5 separate regions of the Homo sapiens genome follow, and regions 1, 3, 4 and 5 are each linked to region 2. The links come from fine-mapping of genetic effects on gene expression. A gene starts in region 2. Each other region holds a variant in brackets. All regions are shown on one strand. Distances are from middle to middle.

The links. PIP is the estimated chance that this variant, and not a neighbour inherited with it, causes the effect. A credible set is the group of variants that fine-mapping cannot tell apart.
Region 1: its variant is the best candidate, but not a certain one, in a credible set for the expression of SGPP2 in blood mononuclear cells (TOPMed, PIP 0.51).
Region 3: its variant is the best candidate, but not a certain one, in a credible set for the expression of SGPP2 in fetal neocortex (Walker 2019, PIP 0.66).
Region 4: its variant is the best candidate, but not a certain one, in a credible set for the expression of SGPP2 in whole blood (INTERVAL, PIP 0.66).
Region 5: its variant is the best candidate, but not a certain one, in a credible set for the expression of SGPP2 in whole blood (INTERVAL, PIP 0.62).

The regions. Positions count from the first base shown.
Region 1 is chr2:222,371,201-222,376,305 of GRCh38, forward strand. No RefSeq gene overlaps it. Among named protein-coding and RNA genes, the nearest start is that of SGPP2, 51 kb to the right of the region's middle. The variant G/C (reference allele first, on the strand shown) is at 3,090.
Region 2 is chr2:222,421,556-222,426,660 of GRCh38, forward strand. It overlaps SGPP2 (sphingosine-1-phosphate phosphatase 2), which reads left to right and starts at 2,988. Exons shown (of 5, transcript NM_152386.4): 1 at 2,988-3,266. The coding sequence starts at 3,048. RefSeq lists enhancers at 2,232-2,531, 3,722-3,871, 3,922-3,981 and silencers at 2,692-3,041, 3,132-3,361, 3,372-3,421.
Region 3 is chr2:222,460,952-222,466,056 of GRCh38, forward strand. All of the region lies in intron 1 of SGPP2 (sphingosine-1-phosphate phosphatase 2), which reads left to right. Among named protein-coding and RNA genes, the nearest start is that of SGPP2, 39 kb to the left of the region's middle. The variant C/T (reference allele first, on the strand shown) is at 2,030.
Region 4 is chr2:222,530,908-222,536,012 of GRCh38, forward strand. All of the region lies in intron 4 of SGPP2 (sphingosine-1-phosphate phosphatase 2), which reads left to right. Among named protein-coding and RNA genes, the nearest start is that of SGPP2, 110 kb to the left of the region's middle. RefSeq lists an enhancer at 4,717-5,105. The variant A/C (reference allele first, on the strand shown) is at 3,155.
Region 5 is chr2:222,601,883-222,606,987 of GRCh38, forward strand. The region is part of intron 15 of FARSB (phenylalanyl-tRNA synthetase subunit beta); the gene reads right to left. Among named protein-coding and RNA genes, the nearest start is that of FARSB, 52 kb to the right of the region's middle. The variant A/AT (reference allele first, on the strand shown) is at 2,840.

The DNA of each region.
Region 1 (5,105 bases), 50 kb before region 2:
CAAACAAAGGTGCTATTGGCATTTGAGACTGGGCAGTTCTTCATTGCCTGAGACTATAGCACACTCCAAAATATTTTGAATCCTTAGCTTCCAGTATAAATGCCAATGGTACTCCCCAGTCTTTCAGTCCTGAAACCACCAAAGTAATGCCTATTGCTCCTCACACTTCCAAATGCTCCTGAAGAAACTACACCGCTGTGTATTAAAGGTTTTCCCAGCCTTGGCAATATTGACATTTGGGGCCATATGATCCTTTGTTACAGGTGGCTGTCTTGTGTATTGTAGGATTTTTAGCAGCATTCCTGGCCTCTAATGAGTCAAGGTCAGGAACACCCCTCCCCAAGTTGTGATAACCAAAAATATGTCCAGATATTGCCAAATGTCCACTGGGGATAAAATCCCATCTCCCCTCCTTTCCATTAAGAGACACTTGGGGAGAGGGGAGAAGCAATATGGCTGAATAGAAAGCTCCACCAATCGTTCTCCATGACAAGGACACCAATTTAACAACTATCTATACTAAAAAAAACCTTCATAAGAATAAAAAATCAGGTGAGCACTCACAGTATCTGATTTCAACATTATAACACTGAAAGGCACTGGAAGAGGGTTGGGAAGACAGTTTTGAATTGCTGACACCATCCACTCCCATCTCCCAACAGTGGCTCCTTGCCATAGAGAATCTGTGCACTGTGGAGAGGGAGAGCACAGCAACTGTGAGACATTTTATTGAACTAGTGCTGCACTGTCACAGCAGAAAGCAAAACTGGCCTGAACTCAGCTAACACCTGCCTACGGAGGGAGCATTTTAACCAACCCTAGCTAGAGGAGATTGTCCATCTGAGTAGTTAGAACTTGAGTTCCAGCAAGGCTTGCCACCACAGGCTAAAGGGCTCTGGGGCCATAAATAAACTTGAAAGGTAATCTAGGCCACAAGGGCTGCAACTCCTAGGTGAGACCTAGTGCTGAACTGGGCTCAGAGCTAGTGGACTTGGGGGGCACACGACCTACTGAGATACCAGCCAGGGCATCTAAGGGAGTGTTTGTATGCCACTCATTCCCCAACCCCAGGCTGCACAGCTCTTAGCTCCAAAGACTCCTTCCTTCCACTTGAAAAGATGAGAAGGAAGAGTAAAGAGGACTCGATCTTAGTTCTTGGATACCAGCTCATCCACAGTATGACAGGGCACTAGTCAGAGTCATGAAGCCTCCTTTCCAGGCCCTAGTTCCAGGATGACATTTCTAGACATACCCTGGGCCAGAAGGGAACCCACTGATTTGAAGGGAAGACCCATCACAGGCTGATTAGAGAGCCCTTGGGCCCTGAATAACAAGCATCGATACCCAGATAGTGCCCCTGTGGGCCTTGGGTGAAACTGAGACCTCCTGGCTTTAGGTGAGATTCAGCACATTCCCATCTATGGTGGCTTCTGGAAGAGACTCCTCTGTCTGTGGAAAAGGGAGGGAAGAGTGGAAAGACTCTCATGGTTTGAATCCCAGGTCAGCCACAGTACAATAGAGCACCAGGTAGACTTCTAAGGTTTTTGACTTCAGTCTCCGGCTCCTGGATGGCTCCTCTGTACCCACCCAGGGCCTGAGGAACTTGTCGCCCTGAAGGACACAAGCCTGGCTGGCTTTGCCACTTGCTGATTGTAGAGCCCCAGGGCTTTGAGTAAACATAGTTAGTGGCCAAGTAGTGATTATGGTGGGATTTGGGTGAAACCCAGTGTGATACTGGCTTCAAGTCTGACCTAGTGCAGTCCCAGTGGTCGTGGCCACAGGGGTGCTTGTGTCGACCCACCCTCAGCTCTGGACAGTAAAGAACAGGGAGAGAGAGAGAGAGAGAGAGAGAGAGAGGAAGAGAGATTCTGGGAGAAAGTAAGAAGAAAAAACAAGAGTCTCTGTCTAGTAATCTTGTTCTGATCTTATCCAGGACCATCAAGGCAGTACCTCTATGAGTCTACAAGAACCACAGGGCTACTGAGCTTGGGATGCCCCCAGGGCAGGCACAGCTTAGATCACAACACCTAAGTCCTTTTGAATAACTGGAAAGCCTTCGCAAGAAGGACAGGTACAAAGAAGCTCAGACTGTAAGAACTACAGTAAATACCGAACTCTTCAAATCCCAGGAACAGATAAACATCCACAAGCATCAAGACCATCTAGGAAAACATGACCTCATTAAATGAACTAAATATGGCACCAGGGACCAAACCTGGAGAAACAGAGATATGTGACCTTTCAGACAAAGAATTCAAAATAACTATTTCGAGTTGAAATTCAAATAAATCCAAGATAACACAGAGAATAAATTCCGAATTCTATCAGATAAATTTCACAAAGAGATCGAAATAATTTTAAAAATCAAGCAGAAATTCTGGAGTTTAAAAATGTAATTGACACACTGAAGAATGCATCAGAGTCTTTTAATAGAAGAATGATCCAGCAGAAGAATTAGTGAGCTTTAAGACAGACTATTTGAAAATACACAATCAGAGGAGACAAAAGAAAGAAGAATAAAAAATAATAAAGCATATTATATAATATATAATATAATAATAAAACAGGATATAGAAAATAGCCTCAAAAGGGCAAATCTAAGAGTTACAGCCTTTAAAGAGGAGGTACATAGATAGGGATAGAAAGTTTATTCAAAGGGATAATAACAAAGAACTTCCTAAACCTAGAAAAATATATCAATATCCAAGTGCAAGGTTATAGAACACCAAGCAGGTTTAACCCAAAGAAGACTACCTTACATCATTTAATAATCAGACTCACAAAGGTCAAGGATAAAGAAAAGATCCTAAAAGCAGCAAGAGAAAAGAAACAAATAACATTCAAGGAGCCCCGATATGTCTGGCAGCAGACTTTTCAGTGCTTTACAGACCAGGAGATAGTGGCATAATATATTTAAAGTCCTGAAGGAAAAAAACCTTTTAGCCTAGAATAGTATATCCGGTGAAAATATCCTTAAAATGTGAGAGAAATAAAGACTTTCCCAGACAAACAAAAGCTGAGGGATTTCATCAACACTAGACCTTACCTACAAGAAATGCTAAAGGGAGTACTTCAATCAGAAAGAAAAG[G/C]ACATTAATCAGCAACAAGAAATCATCTAAAGGTACAAAACTCACTGACAATAGCAAGAACACAGAAAAACCCAGAATTATTTTTTATTATAGTTTAAGTTCTGGGATACATGTGCAGAATGTGCAGGTTTGTTACATAGATATACACATGCCATGGTGGTTTGCTGTACCCATCAACCCATCATCTACATTAGGTATTTCTCCTAACGGTATCCCTCCCCTAGCCCTCCACCCCCGAAAAGGCCCTGGTGTGTGATGTTCCCCTCCCTGTGTCCATGTGTTCTCATTGTTTAACTCCCACTTATGAGTGAGAACATGTGGTGTTTGGTTTTCTGTTACTGTGTTAGTTTGCTGAGAATGATGGTTTCCAGCTTCATCCATGTCCCTGCAAAGAACATGAACTCATCATTTTTTATGGCTGCATACTATTCCGTGATGTAAATATGCCATATTTTCTTTACCCAGTCTATCATTGATGGGCATTTGGGTTGGTTCCAAGTCTTTGCTATTGTGAATACTCTTGCAATAAACATACATGTGCATGTGTCTTTATAGTAGAATGATTTATAATCCTTTGGGTATATACCCAGTAATGGGATTACTGGGTCAAATGGTATTTCTAGTTCTAGATCCTTGAGAAATTGCCACACTGTCTTCCACAATGGTTGAACTAATTTACACTTCCACCAACAGTGTAAAAGTGTTCCTATTTCTTCACATCTTCTCCAGCATCTGTTGTTTCCTGCTTTTTAATAATCACCATTCTAACTGGTGTGAGATGGTATCTCATTGTGGTTTTGATTTACATTTCTCTGACCAGTGATGATGAGCTTTTTTTCATATGTTTGTTGCCTGCATAAATGTCGTCTTCTGAGAGATGTCTGTTCATATTCTTTGCCCACTTTTTGATGGGGTTGTTTGTTTTTTTTCTTGTAAATTTGTTTAAGTTCCTTGTAGATGCTGGATATTAGCTCTTTGTCAGATGGATTGCAAAAATTTTCTCCCATTCTGTAGGTTACCTGTTCACTCTGATGATAGTTTCTTTTGCTATGCAGAAGCTCTTCAGTTTAATTAGATCCTATTTGTCATTTTGGCTTTTGTTGCCATTGCTTTTGGTGTTTTAGTCATGAAGGCTTTGCCATGCCTATGTCCTGAATGGTATTGCCTAGGTTTTCTTCTAGGGGAAAAATCCAGAATATTATAACACTCTAATTGTGATGTGTTAACTACTCTTAAGTAGAAAGGCTAAAAGATGAACCAATCAAAAAATAACTACAACAACTTTTCAAAACATAGACAGTGCAATAAAATATAAATAGAAACAACAAAAAGTTAAAAAGCCAGGGGATAAAGTTAAAGTGTAGAGTTTTTATTAATTTTCTTTTTGCTAGTTTGTTTGTTAAGTAGTTGTTATCAGCTAAAAATAATGGGTTACGAGATAGTATTTGCAAGCCTCATGGTAACTTGAAGTCAAAAAACATACTATGGATACACAAAAAATAAAAAGCAAGAAATTAAATCCTACCATCCGAGAAAATCACCTTCACTAAAATGAAGACAGAAAGGAAGGAAAAAAGGAAGCAAAGACTGCAAAACAACCAGAAACAAATAAAAGGATAGCAGTAAGTCCTTAATAATTATGTTATCATAATAACATTGAATGTAATGGACTAAACTCTCTAGTCAAAAGACATAGAATAGCTGACTGGATAAAAAAAATCAAGATCTAATAATCTATTGCCTACAAGAAATACACTTCATCTATAAAGACAGACTGAAAACAAAGGGATGGAAAAAGATATTCCATGCTAATGAAAACCAAAAAAGAGCAAGAGTAGCTATTCTTATATAATACAAAGTAAATTGCAAGACAAAAACTGTAAGAAGAGACTAAGACAGTCATTATATAATGCTAAAGGGGTCAATTCAGCAAGAGGATATAATAATTGTAAATATATATGCACCAACACTAAAGGAACCAGATACATAAAGCGTATATTATTAGAACCAAAGAGA
Region 2 (5,105 bases):
GGCTTCTTTTAAAAAATTCTATCTGCACATGAGTATTTATAACATGCCAAGTGAATGACAAGCTGCCTAGATAAAATGTGTAGATTATGGCTGAATTATAACATGGATTTTTACTGTACAACATTTTAACCAACATTAGTTTCCTAATACTGGTGGAGACTGCTGGTTGCCCACAAAAAAATTCTGTCCTCCACTTCTTCCACAGGAATATAGCTTAAGCTTGACATAAGGTTGCCCTGCTAGAGATAACATTTCCAATTGTTTCTCACTGATGGAATGTTAGTGAAAGTGATGTGTGAACTTCTGCCTCACTTGCTTAATAAGACATTGCTGCTCAGAACACTCTCTCTCTTCACCCTTTCAGGAGCTGAACTTCAGATGTTCAGCCCTAACCCAGATTCAACCATGCAAAAGAGGACGATGACCTAAGGCTCAGTTTCAGGGCATGGTGGAGCAATAAGATGAAAAGAACCAGAGTCATGGAGTAGGGCCATGGAGCAGAGCTTCCTACTAACCTCAACTGCTTGCCTTAGAACCATTCTATGAAAGAGAAATACATGTCTGTGTTCCTTAAGCCACTCTATTTTGGGGTCTCTTTGTTATAGTAGCTTAACCTTTATCCGAACTAGTATTAATATATCCATCATTGATTCCTTTTAAATATGTCATTTTGTAATTGTTACATATATACAAGTGAGCAAAGTACAAATAACTGGATTTCTGCCCTGGCAAAAAAAAAAAAAAAAAAAAAAAAAAAAGGTCGGGGGGCGGGATGTGAAATGTATTTCCCACAGGTATGACTAGTGTTCAGTGATCAAAGAACTACAGGGTGTTTCTCTGGTATCAAGAAAAAAAAATTTTTTGCATGACTGCAAGCTACTATTTGATATCTCTGCACCATTACAGCAGTCTTTCAGTCCTACCACTTCTCAAAGATGTTGATTTTTGTTAGGTTGGTTGGGAAATTCATGTTCAGAATAATCAGACTGGGCCTTAGAAAAAAAAGGTTCTGGGGAAATGGACTTTACCACTGCCCAGGAGGCTCAAGATGTCCTACTCAAGATGTTCAGAGCCAAATTCTCTTGAGGATTCCTTCCTAGATTGAATGACTCCAGCACAATACACCTTCTTATCATGATCTCACTAGGCCTTATAGAGCTTGTCTCAAGGTTATTTTTACAAGAGCCTTATAAGAAAGACAAGAAGTGAGGATTATCATTTCATTACAGGGATAAACTGCGACATATGGTGACTTACATCAGGTGACTTGGTGAGCCACTAGAAGCTGGAATCAGTAACTGATCCTCCATGGAGATAAAATGCTCTGTCTACAAATACAATTCTTTGGCAATTAACTTAATGCTGCGTGTGCCATGTTTTGCTTTGCCTATTTTTCCTAACTGGTAGAAAGAAAAATCGAAGCACTAAATTCGGGAGACACATGATGCAAGTGCCTTCACAGGAAAACATATTTCTTTAACACATAAGCAGAACAGGTCCCCAACGATCACAGCTCCAGCTTCTAAAACCAAACCACAGGGTTTTGCCTCACACCTGTAAATGACAGCCAGAAGCATTGTGGAGAGATGCTTCCACCTCCTGGGCCGGACATTTCTGTGTGTGATCCCGCCAGACATGACAATAACTCTGCGTGTCTTCTGTAAGAGGAAAATGGTTTCCCTTAAGAGCTTCAGCATTCTCTCAGTCCCCTTGACTTTGCTCTCCAGACAGGACTGAGAAGCAAGAAAAGTAGAAACTAGGGCATGAAGGGGACTACATCATCCTGGAAAGTCACATCCCAAAGACATTCAGGCCTAAAAGGACAACTGAATAAATAAGGCATTGACAGGTGTTCATTAATCATTTGTGCAACCAAATTCTTAGTAGGCTTTGCATGGACAATCAGGAAACATGCAGGTTTCTGCTGCAAACGAAAGACGGGGTTGAATTGCACTTTTGTTGCAGACTGATCACCTGGGCCTAATTTGATTGTTGCCTCCCAAGGGATCTCTGAGCCCAGGAGGGAAATGTAGGAGGGAGGAGGGAAAACCAAGGCCGGCCTGCAGGATGTTTCCTTTGCTATCTTCTGCTGAGTGCTCTAAAGCAGGTGCAGGTGCAATGAGATACCTAATCCTGTCCCCAGTCCTCCAGCACTTTGTTCTCTTCTCGTTTAAACTCCCTAAATGGTCTGGTGGGGTTTTCCCAGTGTCATTGCTTAAAGAGAGGCAGAGCGGAAAGAAAGAAGTAGGAGAAAGCGGTAAGCATCTTTGTTCTCAATGCGGAAAACCCAGAAGGGACTTTCCTTCCCACCCACCTGAAAATGTTCCCCAGTTGCCAAATCAGAAGGGCAGGGGCAGCGACGCGGAAGATGACTCAGGGCCCACTTTGAACCTCCTGGGTACTTGAGCAAGCTCAAGGGTGTTCGGACCTCTAGGGAGACGTTGCATCACGCAGTTTGGAAAGAACTTGGGAATTCTCCCTGGGGGGCTCGCTGTATTTACTGGGAACTAGTCTTGCAGGAAGGTGAGAGTACGTGGCTGGCTGTGGGGAGCTGGCGTGGGAGGAAATCCGACTTCACCTTGGGCTCAGAGTTGCAAGGAAGGTCACTGTGGGATCAGCCTGAGCCCAAAAGGATGGGCTAATGGGAGCGGCCGCAGGTGCACGCGCGCTCGGCCGCTCCCATTAGTGTTACGTCTGCCGGGGGAAGAAGGTGGGGTGGGGGGTTGGGGGCGCCGGGAGAAGAGAGGCGCAGTTCGGAGATCGGCACTCCTCCGTCCAGTTACAGGCGGTCCTGCCCCCGTGGCCGCCCGGGGCCGCCCAAGCCCTCCGGGACGGAGAGAAAGGGGGACGCGTTGCGCAAGGTGGAGGCAGACACCTGGGCGGGCGCTAGGACCCGGGCGGCGCACCTGTTGGCTGGGCCCGGGGCCCCGCCCGCCCGGCCTCCGCCCGGAGTGCGGGATCGGCGGGGGCGAGGCGGGAGTGGCGGTGCCAGCGGAGGGCACCGGCCCGGCGTGGCAGCGGCGGCGGAGCGCGGCCCCGGGCACACCATGGCCGAGCTGCTGCGGAGCCTGCAGGATTCCCAGCTCGTCGCCCGCTTCCAGCGCCGCTGCGGGCTCTTCCCCGCTCCGGATGAAGGCCCCCGGGAGAACGGCGCGGACCCCACGGAGCGCGCGGCGCGGGTCCCCGGGGTCGAGCATCTCCCCGCAGCCAACGGCAAGGGCGGCGAGGCTCCGGCCAACGGGCTGCGCAGAGCCGCGGCGCCGGAGGTAACCATGGGCAGGTGTTCGCCGGGTACGGGGAGGGGGCGGCTGCGGACGTGCGGGTCCCTGCGACTCCGCCACGCGGGGCCGGCCGGGCCGAGAGGGCGCCGTCCCCGGCAGTGACCCGGCTCCCGCCGCTGCGAGCGGACGGGGAGGCCTGGCCTTCCAGTAACCAGGATGCCACCCTCCAACGCTGCCAGGGGCAACCGGGTCTATTGAGATATCCCCAGACGCTTTCAATGCAGTCCATTTAGAGACTTCCCACTTTCAAAAGTAGTTAAATTCACGTAGATGCCAGCAAATATGTAAGAGTTACGTAATGGAACGGAGGAGCGGGGATGTCCTTGGCACTTCCCCGGGGAGACGTTCTTAGACTCCCCCCCACCCCCGTATTCTTGCATTTCCGCCCATCCCCCTTCCCTGATGCGCACAAATGCGGGTGCAGCCGGGCTCAGCGCGCTCCTCACCGCGCTGCACCGCCAGCTCTGGGCACAGAACTTGGGGCTCACACAGCTCCTAGAGAGATTTACAACCTCCCTGCACTACCCCCGGCGATGATGTCTTAACAGCAACTCTCGCTTGCCCTCCCCCAGAGTCTGGGGGTCCCTCCTGCCTGGTGGGTCTTTTATGGACCGACACCAGTGACTTCTAACAGATGCTTCTGGGAGGGAAGCTCGCTACGCTCCCGCTAGGTGTTCAAAGCGTGGTTATACAACCCACTGCGGCTTGGGGGGAACCAGCGTGCGTCGTCGTCGCAGTGCACAGGGACTTTAGGCAGCAGGGACCAGACGGGCTGCACTTGGCTTCTGGGGACGCATGTCTACCGGGAGCACTGGCAGCACCTGCCTTTTCCCTCGGCAAAGTCAAAAGTGTGGCGCAGGAGAACAGAAATAAACGTATTAATAATTCGAATTCCTTGTACACAGCCACATTTTGTTCTTCCTAGAAGGTTTTGGTGAAAGAAAGGTGGCCTTTACTTACGTGTAAATTTCTAGATGTAGTAACTGAGGAATTACGAAGAACCTGGCTTCTGTGTGGAATGGAATATTATAGGCATTGGATTACAGAATTTGTTTGGGAGGGTGAGGGTGGTTGTGTGTTCTACTCCAGAGAAATCCTCCTCTGTATTTTTTCCTCTTTATTGTTCCTTCTTTATCCCATGTGACATTCCGGTAACCTATAGATGAGTATGAGAACCCCTCTTTTTTCTCTTGCCTTGTCTTAAAAACGGGGCAGAGTAGGGGGGATAAGAAATCAGCTGGGCGTGGTGGTGCGGCCTGTAGTTCCAGCTACTCCGGAGGCTAAGACAGGAGAATAGCTTGAGGCGGAGGTTGCAGTGAGCCAAGATCACGCCACTGCACTCCAGCCAGGGCGACTGAGCGAGACTCCGTCTCAAAAAAAAAAAAAAAAAAAAAAAAAGACCAAAACAAACAAACAAACAAACAAAAAACAGTCCCATGGCTGAAACGTGCCGTGACATATTCGGTGCACACACTGTTTACACCCACAGGTAGACACGTGAGTTGCTTTCTGTTGCTCTCTTCACAAGCTTCTACCCTGTTTCTCTAATTCAGGAAGCTGAAAAAGAGTGAATTGTTCCACCAGTGCTTCTCAAACTGTTTTAAACATCACCCCTGGTAACTTAACTTTAAACTCCACAGTTGGATCCTCTTGACCTTTAAAAGCAAGCTAAGCAGATTTCTTACACAGTTTTATCTTCTTACTGCTTGACAATCCTGGTGGGTCTTCAGTGAGTGAAATTGTGGCGGTTTCCCCACACCCACCCAGCCAACACAGGACTTCTGCTTACAGATCATGTAAAAGCAAGAAAGCTGAATGCCCAAG
Region 3 (5,105 bases), 39 kb after region 2:
AGTGGCATGATAATAGCTCACTGCAGCCTTGAACCCCCAGGCTCAAACACTCCTCCTGCCTTCCAAAGTGCTGGGATTATAGGCATGAGCCACCACATTCGGCTGTTTTTCGAATCTTTTTACCGTCTTTCTCTCCTCTGTGTTCTACTCCAACTGGACTTTCTTTTGACATTGTCTTGTGATTTACATTGTTAATAGAAATGCAAATACAATGACCATTTATTGAACACATGCTGTGTGCCTGATGGGGTAGCATGTGATTTACATAAGTGACTCCATTTCCCCTTCCAAATGCCTTAGTAAAGAAGCTGGTGTTGTCCCCACTGCAAGGTGAAGTTATAAGTTCAGACTTCCCCAGAGTTACCTAGCATGTCCGGCATTGGTCCCAAGGCTGGTGATGACACCCAGAGCCTCTTAGGCAGCAGTCCCCAGCCTTTTTGGCATCAGAGACCAGTTTCATGGAAGACGATTTTCCCACGGACTGGGCAGGTGGGGGGATGGTTTTAGGATGATTCAAGCACGTTGCCTTTATTGTGCACTTTATTTCTATTATTATTACATTGTAATATATTAATATAATGAAATAATTATACAACTCACCATAATGTAGAATCAGTGGGAGCCCTAAGCTTGTTTTCCTGCAACTAGATGGTCCCATCTAAGGGTGATGGGAGACAGTGACAGATCATCAGGCATTAGATTCTCATAAGAAGTGCACAGCCTAGATCCCTCGCATGTGCAGTTCACAATAGGGTTTGTGCTCCTATGAGAATCTAACGGGGCCACTGATCTGACAGGAGGTGGAGCACAAGTGGTAATGTTCACTCACCCTCCACTCATCTCCTGCTGGTTCCTAATGGAACCAGTCCATGGCCCAGGGGTTGGGGACCTGCTCTTAGGTTCTGTTCATATTCGTTTATCTCAACCACAGCTGGCTGGAGCCAACAAAGGAAGTCTCCAGCTTGTGTACAAACCCCTGTGACTTCCAAAGTATAGAGAACTTGGCTTTACCTGTGTGAAATGGGTTAGGGGACTGTCCCTCTGCCTCAGCACAGCGACCGTCATGAGTCATGCCTGTCCCCAGGTCGTTCTTTATTTCTTCAGCAGTGTATCTCTGAGCTGTGGTCCTTGAGAGGCCTTAAAGCGTATGCTTGAAGCTTTTGCAAAACATGGCAGAGAGATCTTGGGTCCTCAGGAGAATAACACAAGCAAACATCGTAAGGCCAAGAAACTCAAGCAGATGGTGGCGGGGAACATGGTCAACACATATGCTTATTTGGTCAGGTTAAGGAATGAGCAGGGTAGAAAGAGGTCCATGGGAATGGGGTCTCCATGCACCCCAGCAGAAGTGAGTAGGGAGCTAGAAACGCTCTTGGGTGACAAGACTCATGTTAGAGCAAAAGTGAGCAGGGAGTAAGCAGGGAGTTAGAAGACCCTTGGGTGACAAGACTCATGCTCACGTCAACACTGGTCATCTGGTGGGCTTGTTTGCTGTAGGGGTCAGCTGTTGGATCTGCTGTGAGAATGGGTGGATGAGGAAGTGAAACGCAGCAAAACTGGATCTAGACAGGTAAAAAGCTAAGCTCAGCCAAAAGAATGGTCTGAAATAATATTTAGGGACCTAGAGAAATGCTCACAATGTAATAATGCTTTAAAATTTAAGATTTTCGATCTTAATCGCAATCACAATTTCGTTAAGATACATAGCACCACCTGCACTCACGATTATGCATAGTAAAGGGACCACGAGGAATGTTCCAGAGGATTGTCTGAGGGGTGGGACAATGGCAGTTTTGATTTTATTTTTATATAGTTTTGGAACTTCCATGATGTTCTCAAGTAAAATGTGTTAATCAGAAAAAAAATTGATAATCAGATAATCAGAAAAACAAACAAACAAAAATTCTCAGAGCACAAAGCAAGCAGGGTCGGAGGAGGTAGTCTGGGTGGGAAGGACCATTGTTCCCACCCAGCATGGTTTTCTTCTTAATGTTCTTTCATGTGTATGCACCCAACTTCAAAGCTTTTC[C/T]TGAGTTTATTTTTGTGACGAATGGCTTTAAACTTCCTCAGCGACAGCCTCCCATTGGGGAACTACAGTGTGAAAATGTGACGGAAATTGATGGAACTTCTCAAGAATTTCTGCTCTAGGCAAGACTTTAGGAGGAGCGTGGAGACAGCAAGACTCTTTTGGCAAAATGTCCTCCCTCTTCCATTCTGTCCCCACTTAGTCTATTCCATCCCTGACTGATCACGGATATCCACTACCACATATCCACAGTCACCCCAGGGACTGGGAAGGATCAAGAAAGGAAAATCCTTCCCAAGCACTGTCTTTACCATCTTGGATTCCTTTAGAGCTCTGAAAAGCAAAGGGCTGGATTCAAGAAATGGGGAAGCGGCTGAGCACAGTAGCCTATAATCTCAGCATTTTGGGAGGCAGGAGGATTGCTTGAGGCCAGGAGTTCAAGAACATAGTAAGGCCCTGTCTCTACAAAATATAAAAAAAATAGTTGATCATGGTGCCACAGAAGGGTCTCTTGAGAATTGAGCCCAGTCTGGACTACAGAGTGAGACCCTGTCTCTATTTTTAAAAAATGAAAGAAATGGGAGGAGTAGCATGAAGATACCATTTTGCTTCAGCCTCCTTCTCCACGTACACATGCACCCACTAACATGACTGTCCTGAAAGAAAATTCCAAGCTAAAAATTGTGTGGCCATTTAGCCCAAATAAAGAGGGAAGTGGGAAAGCCCTTGTATAAAACCACCTTGACTTTGGTGACAAATTTGTCAGACTTCAGTTTTGTGTTTGTATGATTTACCTATTTGCTTTTAAAATCTTGGTACATAAAAGATTATCACAGAAAAAACTTTATTTATGCCTGAATAATTTTCTTACATTTTTGGCAGTGCCTTTTAATGCTTCAGAAAATGTTTTTTGAAGGGAGGTAGGGATGGGTGAGGACATGCTGCCAGGTTAGAAGAGACTGAATCAACCCTCCCAAGTTCTGAATCCTGTACGTGTGTTGGGGTGAGGGGAAATGCCTGGATGAAAACGAGTAAACTGAAGTTTATAACACTCCTTCTCGAACATCATACAGCTCTTCCAAGTATCATTTCGATAAGTTAATATAAATGAATCAGAAACATCTGCCTGCCAAATCCCTCCGCACATACAAGGGCTTAATAATTAAATGGAAAAATGTTCGGTTCAATGTGTTTCAGGTTTTAGCAGATCCAAGATGTTTTGAAAAACAGTTAAGTTCTTAAGACATTTTGATTATTTAAAGGGCAGCTGGCTCTCCCACCCACTTTAAAAATGGCAGTGGTTATTTCTGTTCTTTGTATCGATGCCAATGTCTCTTATTGTCTGTGGAAGAAATTCTCTAGCAGAAGTTCACATTCCTGGTCTCTGAAATGATGACTGCAAATTTCTGTCCTATCCAGATAAAGGCTTGCTTCTAACCCTCTCACTATCCTATGCCCAGATTTGGTTCCTAAGCAAATGCTGTGTCCTTCAAGTACAGAGGTTTTTTGTTCTTTGCTTTTTTGAGATAGGGTCTCACTCTATTGCCCATGCTGGAGTGCAGTGGCATGATCATGGCTCACTGGAGCCTCTACCACCCAGGTTCAAACAATTCTCTCACCTCAACCTCCCAAATAGCTGGGACCACAGGTGTGTGCCACCATACCTGGCTAATATTTTTAATTTTTTGTAGAGACAGGTCTCACTATGTTTCCCAGGCTCTTCTCAGACTCCTGGCCTCAAGCGATCCTCCTACCTCAGCCTCCCAAACAGCTGGGATTACAGGTATGAGCTACTGCACCCAGCCCAAGCACAGGGTTTTAAGTGATGATGAGACAGTGTTTTTTCTAGTTACAAGACCCTTTTCTAGAGTCAAGAAGAGCATTGTTGCCACCATGGGTCACTGTCTCACAATTTCAAGAATTTCTTAATTTGTAGTCCTGGTCCACCTTGAGGAAAAGGAAGAAAAGATATTAGATGTTCAGAGGATGAGCTGAAATATGACAGATTATCAAGAGGAAAACAGTTCAAATTGTGTAAAAGACTACAACTGAAATTCCACTGTAAAATGAAAGCCACATTGGGCTCAGTCCCCTCAACCCTCCCTCCTATCCTTGGACGCAGCAGAGGGATCCCGACAAACGCCCACTAAGCAGGTGACAGTGATGAGTGTGCAGTTCCCTCTCAAGCTGACTCCAATAAGTTGTCCTTACATTTTATTGACTTTCAGTCTCGCCATCCTGAAATTTTAATCACCTGAGCGCTGCTTAGACATTGGCTAGATCACCCAACTTGTAATTCTATCTGGACTTGAAGATGAAAGAAGAAGCCCTCGTGCATTTTTGTTCCTTCTGTTTTCTCCTTCAAGGGACACTGTCAGTCTTTCTTAGGCTTCCTGAGTAATCATCATTTAATTTTCTTTATAGGTTGGAAAGTCTTGATTCTCTTAAAAAAAAAAAAGTGAGTAATTAAAAGTGACGGGCCAGGTTAGTAAATAGATTTGTGAATTCAGGACACCACAGGTCTCCCTCATGGTAGAAATGATGCCATTTCACCCCAGTGGCTTTTCAGTTCAGAACTGGGAATTAATGATATTTTCTCACCAAGTTTAAGAAATCAAAAAACAAAAGAATTAAAGCAGGGCTTCATCCCACTGTTTCAGAGCCAAAATTTGTTCTAGTCTCACCAGAGTAAATCCAGTTGTGCTCCCATTTAAAACCCTCCCATGGCTTTCTGCTCCTTCCAGCCTCAGTCTCAAGTCTGGGCTTGGTTTCACGTCTGCTCTTGAGGTCATCTCCTCTCTGTCTCTTTCACACATATCCCAGCAGGCAGAGCTGCCTCCTGCTTGGGGCCTTTCACTAAGTGTTCTCTCTCTGACCCGCAGACCCTCAAAGAAGCAACACCTCTCCTTATCCAGGGCTCAGCTCAAATGGCTCCTCTGTGGCAAGCATCCCCAGACACACATTGATCACTTTGTAACCCATTTCCTGCTTTAATTTCGTCATAGCACTTATTGCTAAATGAAGTAGTCTTGCTAGCTGGCTGTGGTGGCTCATGCCTGAAATCCCAGCACCTTGGGAG
Region 4 (5,105 bases), 110 kb after region 2:
CCTGGAATCCCAGTGCTTTGAGAGTCTGAGGAGAGAGGTTTGCTCGAGCCCAGGAGTTGGAGGCTGTAGTGAGGTATGCTTGTACAACTGCACTCCAGCCTGGGTGACAGAATGAGATCCAGCCTCCAAAATAAATAAATAAAGTGAGAGACATGTGACTCTTCTTTCACTTGAACACTGAGAGGCTATTAGGGTTATTAATGGGCCTAATTTCATATTGTTGTGTCTCAGAGCATAGGGAGGTGAGAAGAAAGCAAGAGAACACAGAGACATAAAATGAGCTCAGACTGTTGGGAAAGTGGCACCGATAGACTTGCTGGATACAGTATTACCACAAAACTTCAATTTGTAAAAAACACAGTATCTGCAAAGTGCAATCAAGGGAAGCAGAGTAAAATGAGGTGTGCCTGTCCACATACGATGGAGTATTAGCCTTAAAAGGGTGGGGAATTCTGACACCTGCTACAACATGGATGAGCCTTGAAGACATTATGTTAAGTGAGACAAGCCAGTCAGAAAAGGAAATCTTATATGATTCCACTTACATCAGGTACCTAGAGTAATCAAATTCATAGAGACCAAAATTAGAATGGTAGTTGCCAGCAGCTGTCAGGGAGACAGGGAGGAATGAGAAGTTCTTATTTATTGTGTATAGAGTTTCAGTTTTGTAAGATGAAAGACATTTTGGAATTGGATGATCATGGTAGTTACACAACAATATAAATCCTGTTAATACCGCTGGATATTTTAAAATAGTTAAGGTGGTGAATTTTATGTTATGTGTGTGTGTATACATATTAATAGATATATGGAGGTGGGTCCTGAGCTTTGGTATTTTTTTAAGCTCCCCCGTTGATTTTAATGTGCAACCGGGGTTGAGAGTCATTGATTGGACTAATGATCTGTCTTCCATGCTAGATATGTGCATGCCCCTGAACAAAACTGGGTTGGAAGGTGGAGACAGATACTCTGTAGACACCCAGCATCCACATGAACCACTCTGATTGCACACAGCTTTGATGCTCAGGGCGTGTGAGTACATCATTCAGGTGGCTGCCTGCTTGATACAAATGGCTCTCTCTAGGCTAGGCACGGTGGCTCATGACTGTAATCTCAGCACTTTGGGAGGCCGAGGCAGGTGGATCACCTGAGGTCAGGAGTTCGAGACCAGCCTGACCAACATGGAGAAACCCCATCTCTACTAAAAATACAAAAAATTAGCCAGGTGTGCTGGCACATGCCTGTAATCCCAGCTACTTGGGAGGCTGAGGCAGGAGAATCACTTGAACCTGGGAGGCGGAGTTTGCAGTGAGCCGAGATCGCGCCATTGCACTTGAGCCTGGGCAACAAGAGTGAAACTCTGTCTCAAAAAAGAAAAAAAAGAAAAGAAAAAAGAAAATGAAAGAAAAGAAAAAAATGGCTCTCTCTGCATAAGCAGGAGAGCAATTCAAGGAGAGAAATAATTTGCTTATCCCGCCTCTTAGGAAGTCACTCCTTGTCAGATGTGGTTTGGTGCCCCTGTCAAGGCTTTGCTGACGGGCTCCAGCTAGTCTCCTGGGCAGGCCCAACTGAAGCATGGGGAGGCATTAAACCCGCATGGCTGTGTCATCATCCTCACCAAACCAGATCTGGCCCCACCCCAGGGAAGGCGTCCCTGCCTACCAAGACACCCAAGCAAGAAACATGGGCAACACCCCAGCTCCTCCCTTCCCACACCTCCATCAGTCAGGTAGTCACCAAGCTGAATCCGTTCTGGCTCTTAAATATGTCTCACAGCTGCTCTTACACCACTGCTTGGAAATTATTTCCAAATCTGATTATGCTATTCCATGCATGGAGAAGTTTCTCTATCTCTTGCTGGACGTGAATGATGACACAGCCCCATTTGTGAGCAGCAGCCATTTGGGAATGTTTGGGGAATTGGCCTTTGAGAGAAATCAGTACTGTCCATGCCAAAGTATGGAAATAAAACACAGGGGCCCCAATGACATCACTGAGTGACTTTACCACCCCTGGGGCCACCGTACCTCTGGGCTCACCATTCAAGGTAAAACAGAGTTCCTTATTGCTGAAGCCAGTTTTTACTGAGGTCTTACATTTTTTCATGGTGAAAGGCATTCTATGTGAAGTGATAATTTATGAAAACAGTTTTTTGGTGTATAATTTCATGTTCTCTTAGTTTGAAGAATAAACCAATTGCATCCAGCTGAAGGAAAAGACAGAGAGAAAGAGGGAAAGGAGGGAAGATAGAATGTCTTGGAAGGACTGGGGTAGCTTGTGGAGCTCAGGAAGCTGTCAAAAAAACAAGCCTCAGGAGGGACCAGAAGAGGGGTGGCTCTGAGGAGTGTCATCACCTTCCCTTTGGAGTGCCACCATTCATGTATCCCAGCTCCCGACAACTCCTCCCTCAGATCAAAACTCTAACATATGGAGGTGAGACTTCGGCTGGACCCAGCACTACCCTTGGACCAGTGACCCTTGGCAGGGGGACAGGTCGCAGAGCAGAAATGCAACCTGGGAGCCACTCCTGTAGGATGTGAAGGCAGTGTCCTGAGAACAGGGACTGGAAAGAGCCCAGTAAGTTCACCACAATTGAATATGCCCAAAATCAAGTGGTTACCAGATGCGTTAGTCAGGACTCCTTGAATGAGAATAACAGACATCAACTCAAACTAGTTTAAGCTTACAGGGAAATGTATTGATGTTTATAACCATAGTATAAGGAGGTCAGAGGTGCAGCTGGCATTGGGAGAGTGGGACCCCAGGCCTTGACCTTCATCAGAAGCTTCCCTCACCACTCTTACCCAAGCTTATCTCTGCATGGTGGATTCATACTCTCGGTCTGCCATCCTCCCTGAGATTGGAGTTCTGGGCTTCATTTATTTTTTTTTTTTTTCTATTTCGCTCCTTAAAGGACTTCAGGGAGGAGAGTTTCAGGGAAGATCTCACATTGGCTGCACCTGGATAATAAGTCCGTGGCTGCATCAAATGCTATCCCAGGGGTGCTGAGAACTGTGATGGAACCAGCCAGGTCTGGAGCCAACCCGTGCGAGCAGTGGCTCTGATTGGCAGCAAAGGTTAGGGTTGGGATTGGCATACAGGAGGCTCAGTTCTCTAAAATAAAGTGCCTCCTGGCATCAGAAGCAGGGCAGAC[A/C]AAGTCCCATGATATGCTCTCTGCATCTATAGCATGGCATTTTTCCTACTCTTTCAAAGTCTCAAAATGTGGACCTAATATTGTGTTTGTGGAGGAAGGAGGGCTAGAGCAAACCAAGAAGGCTCATCATACTATATTTATGATGCCCTGACTATTCAACTTACACAAAACGGATTTTAAGCCCTTTGACTAATGAAACAACCATCCCAAATATATTAAAACTAGCCAGAATTTTTGTTGTTAGCGAATGTGTGAAATATGAACAAACAGTGAATACTTGTTCCATTATTTTGCACCTGACCTAGCTGAAATGCTGCTTTATTTTATTGTCCCTAAATTGTTTGATCTCTGGATAATTACACAGATACTGTTTTATTTGCTTATTCATTTATTTTTTTTTCCTCCCAACTTTTGTTTTAGTTTTGGTTGGAGTCAGAGAATGTTGAAAAGGTTTCTCAAATACTAAATTATCTGCAGACCATACAAAACTGTGTTCTGGCTTTGGACTAGAGCATTTTTGTTGTATTTTTTCATGTTGTTTAAAAAAACTTACTTCAAAATGCCTTACTTAACATGGGAAAAAAAGCCGATGGCAATATAAATTACACCCTACCAAGCCTTACTTTCTGTTACACCCTGTTGGATGAGTTACTGAGATAAAATGGGAATTTAGTTATGTTTCTGAGCATCAGTCACTATGTTAGTATGTCACTGTTTTCTCTTTACCCTAGAGAGACATATTTTTACCCTTTTGTAAAAATAGGGAATTATTTCTAGTTTCAAAAGTAATGAATACTCATGGTAAAACATTCACTCCCTCTTGGTTTTAATTTTTTTAAAAGACAAAATAAATCACTATTATTTAACCACCAAAGGAGAAGTTCAGATACCCATTGTTGGGATTAGGCCTTAGCATATTTTCCAGCAAGAACTTTCATATGTATTACTAACAACAAACACAGGCAAATTAATTTGTGTACCTTCTTTCCCAACGCTGTTCAAAAAGCCACAGTGGGGGCGCAGTGGCTCAAGCCTTTGGGCACAGTGGCTCACACCTGTAATCCCAGCACTTTGGGAGGCAAAGGCGGGCAGATCACCTGAGGTCAGGAGTTCAAGACTCAGCCTGGCCAACATGGTGAAACCCCATCTCTACTAAAAATACAAAAATTAGCCAGGCATGATGGCAGGTGCCTATAATCCCAGCTACTCAGGAAGCTGAGGCAGGAGAATTGCTTGAACCTGGGAGGCGGAGGTTACAGTGAGCCAAGATCATGCCATTGTACTCCAGCCTGGGTGACAGAGCGAGACTCTGTCTCAAAAAAAAAAAAAAAGCCACAGTGGGGGCACTGTTTTCATCTCTTTTACAAGTGGAGGATGAATCCGCTGCTGGAAGGGCTGGAAGTCTAGGATGGGAGCTGGACGAGCCTTGAGTGCAGACCACAGGAGATGGACAAAGACAGAAGTTGGTCAAGCACCAGAGTGATGCAGAGGTCAGAGGCCCCTGCGTGGCAGAGAGCCACAGTCGAAAGGGCTGGAGCAGGCACTGGGTCCATCTGCCTCAGACCAGAAGCCACTCGCATCCTTTCTGCCGCAGTGGAGAAACCAGTTGGCCTCTGACATTCTGCAGCCTGGCACCTCGGAGGCTGCTTCAGCATGGTGTGTGGTCAGACCTGGAGGAGCCTACAATTAACTGACAATTAGCCTGACTGGGAGGGGAAGTGGGGACCTCCCTGAGGCTAGTGGCCAGGCAGCCAAATGGGCTAAGACTCTGGCTTCAGATGTGGTCCATTGGGAAGTGGCTGGTTTCTCAAAAGACTCAGAAGTGCCAATTAAATTCCAGCATGCTGAGCAGGGAGCTCGATAAAGGCTTAAAGTCTGGGTGGTACTGAGAATGCATCCACTTTTCCCAAATAAATAAAAAGCAGCCACATTTAGGGACAGCATGGATTTG
Region 5 (5,105 bases), 180 kb after region 2:
CAAACTCTGGGCTCAAGTGATCCTCCTGCCTCAGCCTCCCAAAGTGCTGGAATTAAGGTGTGAGCCACTGTGCCCAGCTAAAGGCAATATTTTAAAAAAGAATTCCAACAGTCCAAATGAACACTGATAACAAACTGGTACATCCATACAGTAGGATACCACTCAGCAACAAAAAGGAACAAACTGTAGATAGACTTGACAACCTGGATGACTCTCAAAGGCATTACGCTGAAAGAAAGAAGGCTCTCAAAAGGCTACAGACAGTATGAGTCCATTTATATGACATTCTGGAAAAGGCCAAACTTATGGGAACAGAGAACAGATAGTAGTTGTCTGGGATTAGGTATGGGAAAAAAATGCAACTAAAATAAGGCGTTTTTAGGGTGATGGAACTTTTTGATCTTGTAGTGATAATTATAATCATCTAAACCTCTCTCAATTTACAAATCTAATGTGATCTTAAAAAAAATACCAATAGAATTGAAAAAAATTACATAAATGGATTCTAAAGTTCATATAAAAAAACAATAGTGATAGAGGGAGACTACTAGATATTAAAATTTATACATCTACAGCAATTAAAACAGAGTGGCAATAATTTGTGAGTAGTCATACAGATGAGTGGAACAGAACAGTTCAGAAACAGATCTAAATACTTACAAGAATTGAGAATATGATAAAGGTGGCTTTTCTTTTTTTTTTTATACCATATTATCCAGTAATTCTACTTCTTTTTTTTTTAATTTTATTATTATTATACTTTAAGTTTTAGGGTACATGTGCACAACGTGCAGGTTTGTTACATATGTATACGTGTGCCATGTTGGTGTGCTGCACCCATTAATGAGAGAAGTGATATCTTTATGATGCTGCGTATTTCTATGAAAGAACGTGGTGTATCTTCCCATTTGTTTGGGTCTTATTTCATCTCTCATTAGCACTTTAACATTTTCTACAAATAATATTTCTTGTGTTTATTCCTAAGTATGTTATCATTTATGTTTTGTGCTATTATAACATGGGTCTTTTCTTCCCTTAGAGCTTGAAATTAGACATATTGTATCTATAAAAGCTATTGATTTCTGAAAATTAATTTATTAAATTTTTATTTTGTAAAAAAAAAAATCATCTAAACCTGTAACAAAACTCATTTTTAAAAAGAAGTACCTAAGTATAGAGAGGAAGACTGAAAGTCAGCAGTCATCATTTAACTTTATAACACTTGTGGCCCTTCAATACATTCTGGAGACCGCTGCTCTAACACAAACATAGAACGAATGCTGGCCTCATTTTGCTTTCCAAATTAAAAAGAGAAAAAACAAACTAATATCTGAGGGAATAAACTGAAAACAGAAAGCTGCTTCATGTTAGCATACATTGAGCAAAACTTCTTCCACGGATTTACTCCCATAGGTAAAAGCTACTAGCAATAGTTGACATAAAATACAGAATGCCTTTTATCTTCTAGATATCCAAGTAAAACATGAATATTTTAAGACACTGTACTCTAATATTAAAATAATATAAAAGTAAGCACATAAATGGAGGAAAACGAAAACTAACATTAACTGTTAATCTGTGGTATCGATTATCTGGCACATGCTAGGTATTAACTATCTGTCAATTTATCTATAATCTTATTTAATTCTCAAGACAACCATGCAAAGTAAGTATTATTATTCCTATAAAACAGATGGAGAAACAAAGCTCAGAATGATTAAGTAACTTGGCCAAAGTCAAACTAATTGGCTGGAGCTAATACGATTAATTATATTATTATTAATATAATTAATATTATATTATATATTATTATATATATTAGATAATAATAATAAATATAATATTAATTATATATATTAATTAATTATATTGCTAATACGATTAATTATCTGGTCAAAACCAGGATTTGACCAGAATTAACTGACTGTAAAACCCATGCTCTTTCCACTATAGGGTACACCCAAAAACATTTAAATGAAAACAAACAATATAAGGGCAAGCTTATGTATGGCTATATATCCACTTAATATGGTCAAAGATGTGCATTGTTGAGGCCAGGCGCGGTGGCTCACGCCTGTAATCCCCGCACTTTGGGAGGCCAAGGCAGGCGGATCACAAGGTCAGGAGATCGAGACCATCCTGGCTAACATGGTGAAACTCCGTCTCTACTAAAAATACAAAAAAAATTGGCCAGGCATGGTGGCAGGCACCTGTAGTCCCAGCTACTCAGGAGGCTGAGGCAGGAGAATGGCGTGAACCCGGGAGGCAGAGTTTGCAGTGAACCGAGATCACGCCACTGCACTCCAGCCTGAGCAACAGAGCGAGACTCCGTCTTAAAAAAAAAAAAAAAAAGATATGCATTGTTGAAATGTTTTTTATATGATAAACAGATGTTTTATTTTCAAAAGTTTTTGTGAAACTTAAGAATTCCATTTAAGCAACTGAAATAAATTATTTTTAAGAGTCAGTGAAGTTTCTAGCCATGAAAGTATTGTTACTTATGGAAAGTATATTCTGAGTTGAACTTCGGACTGAACAGATACAAAGAAATAACTGCCCTTGCCATTTAACATTTCTCAGTACACACTATATTCAAGGCGCTCTATTCTAGATATTCTTTGATGATAGAGGTCAAAGCCAGTACAAGACATCTACAACCTAAACCGTCAGTAATTCTTCTTTGTTTCTTTGAGACAGGGTCTCACTCCAGTAGCCCAGGCTGGAGTGCAGCAGCATGATCTTGGCTCATTGCAGCCTTGACTTCCCAGGCTCAGGCGATCCTCCCAACTCAGCCTCCTGAGTAGCTGGGAGTACAAGCACACATCACCATGCCCACTGA[A/AT]TTTTTTTTTTTTTTTTTTTTTTGTATTTTCAGTAGAGACAGGGTTTTACCATGTTGCCCAGGCTGGTCTCGAACTCCTGGGCTCAGGCAATCTGCCTGCCTCAGCCTCCCAAAGTGCTAAGGCTACAGGCATGAGCCACCATGCCAGACCTCAATAATTATTTTCTGAGTAAATGCCTACAGCCTAAAAAGAAGATAAGCACACACAAATAGCTATTAAACAGGGCCAGGAGCAGACAGTGGGCCATATCTATGCCAGCTGAGATAAGCGAGGAGCATACCACTGTCACCTCCATCATTTCCATTTTTAAAGATAAAGAAATTTGGTATCTAAAAGCTATAAGTCGACATTAAAATCAGACAGGCACAAAACCTCACTAAACCAACCATATTCATAAACTAAATTGAAGAGCCTGATTCCACTGTAGGAATACAAACTTTCTCTCTCTCTCTCTCTCTCTCTCTCTCTCTCTGTGTCTCCCTTTCTTTCATTCTCTCCCTCTGAAGGGAAAAAAATGAAACGAAACAGAACTAAATTATCCCTTTCATACTACTGACTTGCTTCTGGGTATTTTTGCCATGTGGTACCCATTTGTTGGTGTGGATGTCACATGCTTCCACTTTAACACACAGGCACGTATTGAAACAACTTTGGAGTTCCATTTTTGCTGTGAGAGAAGAGCCCAACAGTAATACTACCATTAAGAGAGAGCTTAGCAACTAAACTGGAAGCTTTATTTTGGTAATCTTTGCCAAATTCCAAGTACTTTTTTCCTGATTTCTAAATTATGTAAAGCTTTTATATTTCTGATATGAGCAGCAATATCTGGATTAAAAATTTAGAATTTTAAAAAACAAATTAAGTAAACTTGTGATGAGAATAATAAAATCACAATTAAAAAATATAGAATGTAGGCCAGGCACAGTGGCTCAGGCCTGTAATCCCAGTACTTTAGAAGGCCGAGGCAGAAGGATCACTTGAGCCCAGGAGTTTCAGACCAGCCTGGGCAACAAAGTGAGACTCCATCTCTACAATAAATTATTTAAAAAAATGTAAAGATTAGCCAGGCACACTGGTGGTGTCATATGCCTGTAGTCCCAGCTCCTTGGGAGGCTGAAGTGGGAGGATCCCTTGAGCACAGGAGTTCGAGATTGCAGTGAGCTATGATCATGCCTGAGTGACAGAGTGAGACCCTGCCTCAAAACAAAAACAAAAACAAAAGAGAACTTAAAAAATTTATACTCTATTTCATTCAAGAAAGGTTTCAGGATGTTTATAGCATACACATACAATAATGAACTATATATTTTTAGATTTAATTTTGCAATATTTTTAAGAAAAGCCTGATTTCTAGGGCTTTGTATTAAGCCCACCGTAATAATTAGATTAACCTCATTATTTAGGCGCCCCCTCCCAACTCCACACTGATTGGCTGGCTTTTTACGTTTCCCAAGGGTTATTGCTCTCTCCGGACTTACTTCCTTATATCTTGCTAAGATACTCCCTCTACTGTAGCTGAACTGAATCAAAGGAGAAAATAACCACAAACTTATTTCCACCCATTCCTCCTTGAAATTGCTGGGTATAGTAACATTCCCATTTCCTAGTATGTTGCACTAAGAGACCATACTACATCATAGAAAGTCCACTGACTACACACCACAAAATAAGAACTATTTAAAAGTCATGCCAAAGCTGGGGTTTGTTGGAAATGCCTCAGTTCTTTTATAACTCAGTTAACAGACTGCTTGTGTCATGCCATCAAACAATTCTGCTTTTTAAATGGGCCTGGCAAGTATGTCAGCCTAAATTATCTATGTATTTCACAGACTTCAAAGTACTGCCTGGAGAGGGCTGATCTAAGCTGCGCAAAGGAGGGGCGGCTAGCTACAATTCTATAAGATGAAAGAACACGCCAAATGATTTTTTAACAGAAAAGAAAAAGGAGTGGTACATGATGTCCCCTTGTAAATGACTATTACATATAACTCAAATTTTTCAAATAGGCTCCTGTTTGGTATAGATCCTCTTCCACCAAAGTACCAATGATTAAAAACTAAGGTGTTTGGTTATGTTATCATACATGGCACAGACTGGAAAAGAGCAGAGTCTTCCAGAGAAACTTTCCACTCCTATTCTCACATTCACCTAAAAGCCCAAAGAAAGATGCTAGGAGAAAACCTATTGGGAGACCAAAACAGCTTCTAGAATAATCAGAGGCTGATGTGGAGCTTGAGGTTAATAGTCTGGCCAAATTCAGAAAAT